Linked DNA regions of Homo sapiens. The protein of the gene in region 2 purifies or fractionates together with the protein of the main gene of each other region. This does not show direct contact. Each region holds a gene or a part of one and is shown on either strand. Other genes may lie near its edges.

The links.
Region 1: the proteins of SLC67A1 (region 2) and SLC30A9 purify together in Homo sapiens (affinity purification with mass spectrometry; 2 studies listed by BioGRID and IntAct, with this or other methods). This does not show direct contact.

Annotation. Positions count from the first base shown.
Region 1 is NC_000004.12:42,084,508-42,088,255, forward strand, and holds part of SLC30A9 (proton-coupled zinc antiporter SLC30A9, mitochondrial), read left to right. Parts: intron 1-1,574; coding exon 1,575-1,619; 3' UTR 1,620-3,748. UniProt on the Homo sapiens protein: Mitochondrial proton-coupled zinc ion antiporter mediating the export of zinc from the mitochondria and involved in zinc homeostasis, zinc mobilization as well as mitochondrial morphology and health.
Region 2 is NC_000011.10:2,900,419-2,904,166, forward strand, and holds the start of SLC67A1 (solute carrier family 67 member A1), read left to right. Parts: upstream 1-1,859; 5' UTR 1,860-1,946; exon of another isoform or gene 1,947-2,177; coding exon of another isoform or gene 2,178-2,300; intron 2,301-2,795; coding exon of another isoform or gene 2,796-2,927; coding exon 2,928-3,071; exon of another isoform or gene 3,072-3,157; intron 3,158-3,748. UniProt on the Homo sapiens protein: May act as a transporter of organic cations based on a proton efflux antiport mechanism. May play a role in the transport of chloroquine and quinidine-related compounds in kidney. Plays a role in the regulation of lipid metabolism.

The DNA of each region.
Region 1 (3,748 bases), on a different chromosome or scaffold from region 2:
TGTCGCCAGGCTGGAGTGCAGTGGCACAATCCCGGCTCACTGCAACCTCTGCCTCCCGGGTTCAAGCGATTCTCCTGCCTCAGCCTCCCGAGTAGCTAGGATTACAGGCATGCGCCACTATGCCCAGCTAATTTTTGTACTTTTTAATAGAGATGGGGTTTCATCATGTTGGCCAGGATGGTCTTGATCTCTTGACCTTGTGATCCGCCCGCCTCGGCCTCCCAGAGTGCTGGGATTACAGGCGTGAGCCACCGCGCCCGGCCAGGTGCCCTTCCTTTGTGCACTCACAGGAAAAAGAAACCCAAAATCTTTACTTTGCTCTGTGGTAGCCGAGTGTTGTAATTGCCTACTTAATTTACCTATATCACCTCACTACCAAACGTAAGTCCACTGAAGGCAAATACTGTTTGTTCCCAGCTCATTGTCATATACACTTCAATGCCTGGCACAGAGTAGGCATGTAATAGTAGACAGTATTGGTTGTTATTGAATTGAAGTTCCTTAAGCTAGCATATAAGATTTTTAACAACCTGATTTCTGCCTGTCTTTCCAGCCTCATTACCAACCCTACCCTTTTTGCAGCTTCTGTGCTAGCTATACCATAGTGCCAGTGCACACTTTGCAGGCTGTCTGACTTTGCTGATGTTGTGTTTTCTGTCTAGACACTCTTCATTATCTACCTGGAAGGCTCATCATATGCAGACCTACCTTAGATATTATATCCTCAGTGAAATTTTCTAGATCTCATGAGCAAAATGGCTGTCTCATTTTTGCTCCCAGTGTTATTATTTAGTACAGTGTAATAGGAGCTTGGGATCTGGAATCAGGCCTGGAGTCAGGCCTGGAATCAATCCTGGCTCCATCACTTACTAGCAGTGTGACTTCAGACAGGTTAGTTAATTTCTTCGTACTTCAGTTTTCCCTGATGTATGTATAAGATGGAAATAGTAATTAGGTTATGAGGCTTTTAAAACACACATACATGTGCTCATGTAACACAGTACTTGATACATGAGTGAGTAAGCAATAAATGTTAACTTTTTATTATTAGCTCTAATACTTTAACTTGTAGATGATTACTGCTATGCTGGTCTCCCTAGCTAAACTGAGTCACTCAGGGTCAGGAACAGAGTCTTATTTAATAATCATAGCTCTGTTTTCTAGCACAGGGCCCGGCCCAAGAATATATGGATTGTTGCTAAAGTATATAAAATGAGTGGTTGTCAATTTACTCTTTTTGATTATTATTGTTTTGCAGTGATTTTGTTTTCACCACACAAAAATGTGTATTTCCAGTGCTTCGCAATGCTTGGCATGTACTAGATCCTTAATGCACTTTTGTATTAACAAACACATGAACAAACTTAGGAATGTGATACTACTTATTGTACTGTTTATAGTATGTCTATTTACCTATTGATCTTACTTTTTTTCTTATGCAACTATTTCTCTCATTAGTATGCTATAGTGAAATAGTTTGCAAATGTTTTCATTGGCTCTAATGACCAAAAGGAATAAAAAGAAACAAGATTTTATTTTGCTACAAATAATGTGGTGGTGATTTTTCTTTCCAGAAACGAAATCCTGAAGTTCGACATGTAGATTTGGAGATACTGTGAGTTTGATGGAATGAATCACCTGGGTGGGGACCTTGGAAACAAGTTTGTCCGTCCACTCTACAAAGTTTCCTCCTCTCCTACACTGAAAGACTCAGTGCCATGCAGAAGCCTTTTTTTTAAGATGAAGGAAATATTTTATGTAAAGAGCAACTCAGCAGGACACAGAACTAAAACTACTACTTACATCTAACAGACACACTACAAGTTGAATCAATTTGAAAATCATGTTTTTATGCTTCCATAGGGAACATTTTGGTTATTTAAATTGTTCATAATGTCCCATATTTCACCTGTTCAGTGTATACTGTACTTTGCAATCATCTTTCCTTTTTTCACATTGGTAAAAATAAGTGGCATCCATAGGATCATGATTTTTAATTTGTTGCCTCTGAAGATTTCACTCCATCAAGATCTGCCAATCTTCAATATTCTGGCTAAATCTTGGTATGTGGTTTTTAAACAGTCACTCCGTTTCAAAGTCTGTCTTTCCTTATAGAATGTGGAAATTATTTCTCCATACCTTGTGATTTTGACCTGAGTGCTAAGAGAATCACTCTCCTTACCTAGTTATCTACAAATGTTCATTCCAGAAATGTTTAGTTACTGAATTGAATGAAGACATCTCAGTACACTCTTTTAGGTCATAGTAGTTGCCATTTTGTAAAATTTCTTTTTTCTTCTTTGCTTTTTTCCCCTTATTTGGTTTAATTTTTCTAATGTTAGGAGATATAGTCCTAGATATTTCCATGGGCCAGTGTGATGACTTTTTTTTAAATGAGGTTCAGTACCATAATGTTTATTTACTGGAAGATAATGCATTTATAAGCATTTTAAAATTCTGTAAAGTGGGTTAGAAATATTTATAATTTTACAGGCAGGACAGCATTTGACTTTTATTTAAAAGGCGGCACTACTTATGTAAATCTGAGCTGTGGGATATTTCTTGCTTTAAGAGAGAGACAGAATCTCTCACTGAAACTCATGGTCATGATTTTGTATAATATAGTTCATACTGTGTCTGTGAGTTTCTTCAGTTACAAATGGGCATTTAGTATAGTTATATTGACTATAACATGTAAGTAAATAGCTTTCTACTGACCCTAAGTTATCAAGGTGGAAAAAAAACATGCAATTCAGTAATTGAAAATGTGGTGAAAAGCTGCAGCTGTCATCATCAAAACAACTCATAACATACTTTAAAATGTTCAGGTAGCAGTGAGCATTGTTCATATGAGAATGGCGGCTGGGTGATCTCTTTGCTGAATTAATGAGTTCTTAACATGTGGACCCAACTGCCTGTGTGAGATCTGTGTCTTAAAACTTACTGGAATGGAAATCTATGAATTATTGCAAATTGTAATGCTGGAAACAAAAAATAAATCCTTGGTTAAAGGGTTTGTAATGGTGATTTTTGACCCAGAAATCTCATTTACTGGAAAATTGTGAGACTTTACGTTGGTGTATTTTTCTTTTTTTTTTTTTTACTATTACAGAGTATTTTGCATGCTGTACATTTTAAGTGAAATAACATTCCAGTTTTATTTTTAAGATAGAAAATTGTTATATATATATATAATTTGATACTCTATTCTTACAGTTTCAAATTCCTTATCCCTTCTTTACAAAAAAAACTTTTTTTTTACCTGTTATGATTTATTCTATACTTTTTTCTTCTTCCTTCCCCTTTCCCACTTGCCATTTATTACTTCATGTCATTGCCATATGAGAAAGTACCAAATTATATCCAGTTTCCTCCTAGTGATATTACTCTGAAAAATTTCACAAAGCCAGACAAGAATAATTACTCATTTTTTTTCCCAAGACGACCCTCAAAGTTAATGTGCAGCAGGTATTCCAAATGGTAATTTTTTTTTTTTAGGATTCCCTAATAAAAAAAAAAAAAATTCTGATATTTCTTTTTAAATCTGATTTTGGTTGAGGTCATACCATTCTTAAATAATAATTGAAGGTTTATGTTGCCATCTTTTCTAATTCTGTTTTGCACTGATAAACTTACATAAAGTTTGTTTATGTAAAATAAGACATAAAGGAGTACAACATATCAAGGAATTTGAGTATTTATGTGGAATCAGGAAATTTTTCTAGAGTCACTGAATTTTCAAATCAGA
Region 2 (3,748 bases):
GCGGTGGCTCACGCCTGTAATCCCAGCACTTTGGGAGGCCGAGGGGGGGCGGATCACGAGGTCAGGAGATCGAGACCATCCTGGCTAACACGGTGAAACTCCGTCTCTACTAAAAATACAAAAAAATTAGCGGGGGCTGTGGCGGGCGCCTGTAGTCCCAGCTACTCGGGAGGCTGAGGCAGGAGAATGGCGTGAACCCGGGAGGCGGAGCTTGCAGCGAGCCGAGATCGCGCCACTGCACTTCAGCCTGGGTGACAGAGCAAGACTCCGTCTCAAAAAAAAAAAAAAAAAAAAAAAAAGATATGGGGGAAATTGCCATTTCTGATGCTTAGGCTCAACAAAGTATGGACATCCATGCGGGAACACAGATGAACCAAGGGACCTGCACTAATGCTCCTGGACCGCAAGGGGAAGCGCAGCGAGGGCTGTTGGTCTAGATTTCTTGAACTTTCTGAGCAGCATTCCTTCCTTCTGGGCATGGAGCAGGACCCTCCTGGAATGGGGTCTTATGCCCTACAGTCAAACAAGAGAGGTCAGATAATTTATGGCCAGCTTCTAAACACAAAGGTGGAGGGAAAGTTAGAGCAATATTTTTAGGTTTGATGTCTGGCTGTGTGGAAAGGCGGGGTTCTGATTTCTATGACCTGCCCTGGGGAAAATGGATTCCAGTTTCTAAGGCCAGCTTCGGGGAAAATGGCACTGAGAGACAGGAGAGCAAGAGAAGGTCAGAGAAACACTTTTTCTTCCGAAGCTGCTTCTGAGGCCTTCATTTTGGGGTATTGTTTTCTGATGCCCAACATATCTGAGCTGCTGAACGAAGGGTAGCTGCTGAACCACTCCCACGGTGACTTGGAATGGCTTAGCCAGCCGGCCTTGGGCCACCTGGCTCTGGCCCCCCTGCCCACCAGGACTTTGGCCGGCTCTCGCTCGCCTCTGCGATGTCCGTCCCACCCTGTCTCACCCCTGCAGTTTTCTGCTCTGTGGAGCGATGATTGACACATGGCAGGGGGACACTGGTTTTGACATTTGAGCCTGTGCCCAGCCCTTGCCTGGGGAGGAGGTGGGGCAGGAGTCCTGAATGAGCATCTCCCTACTTAGTGACAGTCAGGGGCACGGAGAATGGTGCCCAGGCCAAGGGCAGGGCTTGGGCCAAGTGTGCGCAGCGTGGGGTGTGTGTGCTCCAGCGGCTCCTGCTGCGGAGGGCGGCATGAGGCTTGTTTACCTGTGTGCTGGCATCTCTGGTGGCCCCTGCAAGGGTGGGGAAGTGGCAGGCAGGGTGAAATGGGGAAAAGTGGGCTCTCAACTGCTCCTAGCAGCCTCCGGGTCTGGGGAGGGAAGTGAGGAGGGGCCCAGAGCTGTCTCCTGGTCACTCTTCTGGGGCTCTGTGCAGACCTTTGGCAGGGCCAGGCTACACCACACCCTCTACAACCTCCCCTGACTTCTTCCCCTAACCCCTCACCACCATTCCTCCGCTTTTCTCTCCCCGCCCCTGCCTCCCCTCCATTCTCTCCTTCCCTCCACCTCCCGGTCCCATCCCCTGCCCACACTGCCCCTCCTCAGGCCCAAAGTGGACACCGGTGCTGCCTGAGGGTCAGAGTGTCCACCTCCAGCAGCCCGGGCACCGGGCAGGATTCAAGCTGGAGGGGGCTGGGGCGGGCGAAGCCGGGCACGGGGCGAGCCCGCTGGTGGGCGGGGCAGGGGCGGGTCCTTCGAGGGGAGGGGCGGGCTCGGCCAGTGAGAGCGCAGAAACCGTGGCACGGGCGCTCCCGGAACTGGCGATTGCAAAGCGCGAGGGCTGGAACTCAGACCCAGAGGGGCGGTCCCTGTTGCAAGTCATCTCCCGAAAGGGCGGGGCCGGGGCTCATCCCGGAAGGACCGGTGTCTAGGTCACCCTGGAGCGCTCACCCCACCGGCACCCGTGCCCAAGCCCGCCCCTGCAAAGGCAGGTACTCGAGCACACTCCGGAGAGGGCGGCCTCTGAGCCCCGAACCCCGAACTCCGGCGCAGCGTCGCACCTCTGCCCAATGAGGTGCCCCTGACGTGCCTGCTGCGGCTGCCCTGCTCCCCCCAGCCTCCCTGCATCCCGGGATGGGGGAGGGCGCCAGGCGCAGCTCCCGGACCCTCAGGGGTCTCCCCGCCCTACCCCACCAGCCTGGGTTCGGTACCTCGGGGCTCAGATGTGCAGTCAGCTGTTAATGTGGCAAAATTTGGGGAAGTCCTCTGCAGCCGCAAAATCCAGTTCCCACCAGTTGGAGGCCGGGCGGGGAAGGGTGGGGACAGACAGCACTCCGCTGTGGGAGGTAAGGCAGAGCTACTGGGGAGCCTGGAAGGCTGAGCTATGTCTCCCCTACGCAAGACCATTCCAGAAGCCCCTTGGAGCTCTGGCTGCTGGCCACAGGGGAAGGTAGACCTTCCCTGAGAGCTGCACTGTGTTGGGGACAGGGCCACTGTGGGCCTACGGAGGGCCTCCAGGCACAGGGACCCACATCAGCCCTCTGGCCACAGAAGGCGCTGATGATTTGAGGTGGACTCAGCCACCACTCCGAGCCTCTGCCTCCCTCTAAAAGTGGGGCATGGCACATTCCTGTGTCAGGCAACCAGGCACTGAGCCTGGCCCACCTGCAGGGGTCGGGGGGAGCAGCTTGTCCCTGTCTCCCCTCCCCGGGAGGCTGTGTGCCTGGAGACCAGAGCTGTCAAAAGTGGAGGAGGGGGACCCCCTGATGTGTCCTCTAAGGTCCAGGTAGCAGGAGAGCTCCACTGGGGAGGGGGTCCTGCAGTGCTGTCCTCTCTTGCAGGCAAGGCCAGGCGGGTGCTGCCTGGGACCCAGTGACTCAGCACCCCTGCCCGGATCAACTGGACTTTTGCCCCCTGCTCCGCCAGCCTCCTGCTTGGATCTCTCCTGGGTCTCCCTGCTGCGCCTGTCCAGGATGCAGGGAGCTCGGGCTCCCAGGGACCAGGGCCGGTCCCCCGGCAGGATGAGCGCTCTAGGCCGGTCCTCGGTCATCTTGCTTACCTACGTGCTGGCCGCCACAGAACTTACCTGCCTCTTCATGCAGTTCTCCATCGTGCCAGTGAGTAACACACCCCAGCCCCTGCAGCCCCAGCCAGGGCTGAACCGCTGTTCCTCCTGCCCTCCATCTGGGCCGTCGCAGAGAGTGGGGGTGGGGGTTTCATGCTGCCAGGGCCCCTCCCAGTTGGGACTCATGCCACGCTTAAGCTGAGTAAGTTAAGGACTCTGCCTCTGGACCCCCGTCAGCACATCCTGTGCTCCAGCTTCAGTGCCAGCCCCGGGAGAAGCCATGGGGAGCCACCCCACTTCCCTCCTGGGGGCAGCACCTCCTCAAACCTTCCTAGCGCTGTTCCTCCTGCCTCTCACCCGGCAGCCTTTGCCCTCTGGAGTCCCTGCCCCAAGGGCTGTTCAATCCGGTGTGGCTCTGGGCGGATCACCCCTCAGAGAGGCTCTCCTTGCACCTGCCCGCAGCTTCTATCTCTCCCCTCCATCTTCTTGGGTCCTTGTTGTCCACTAAATGATCTGTGGCGGCAAATTGATCTCAAGCTTTTTCTTGCAAGAGATAGAATGCTGTCTTATTTTATTATCTCTGTTGCCAAATGCGGAAACATTTCATTGGCAAATTCATGTTAGTTTAGTGTATCATTCAGTAGTCTATACCACAGTGTGTGGCTCTGGAAGCTGTAATAGTAATGATTAAATTATATTCACCAAGTCTGGAGAGGCTTGGGAACAAAG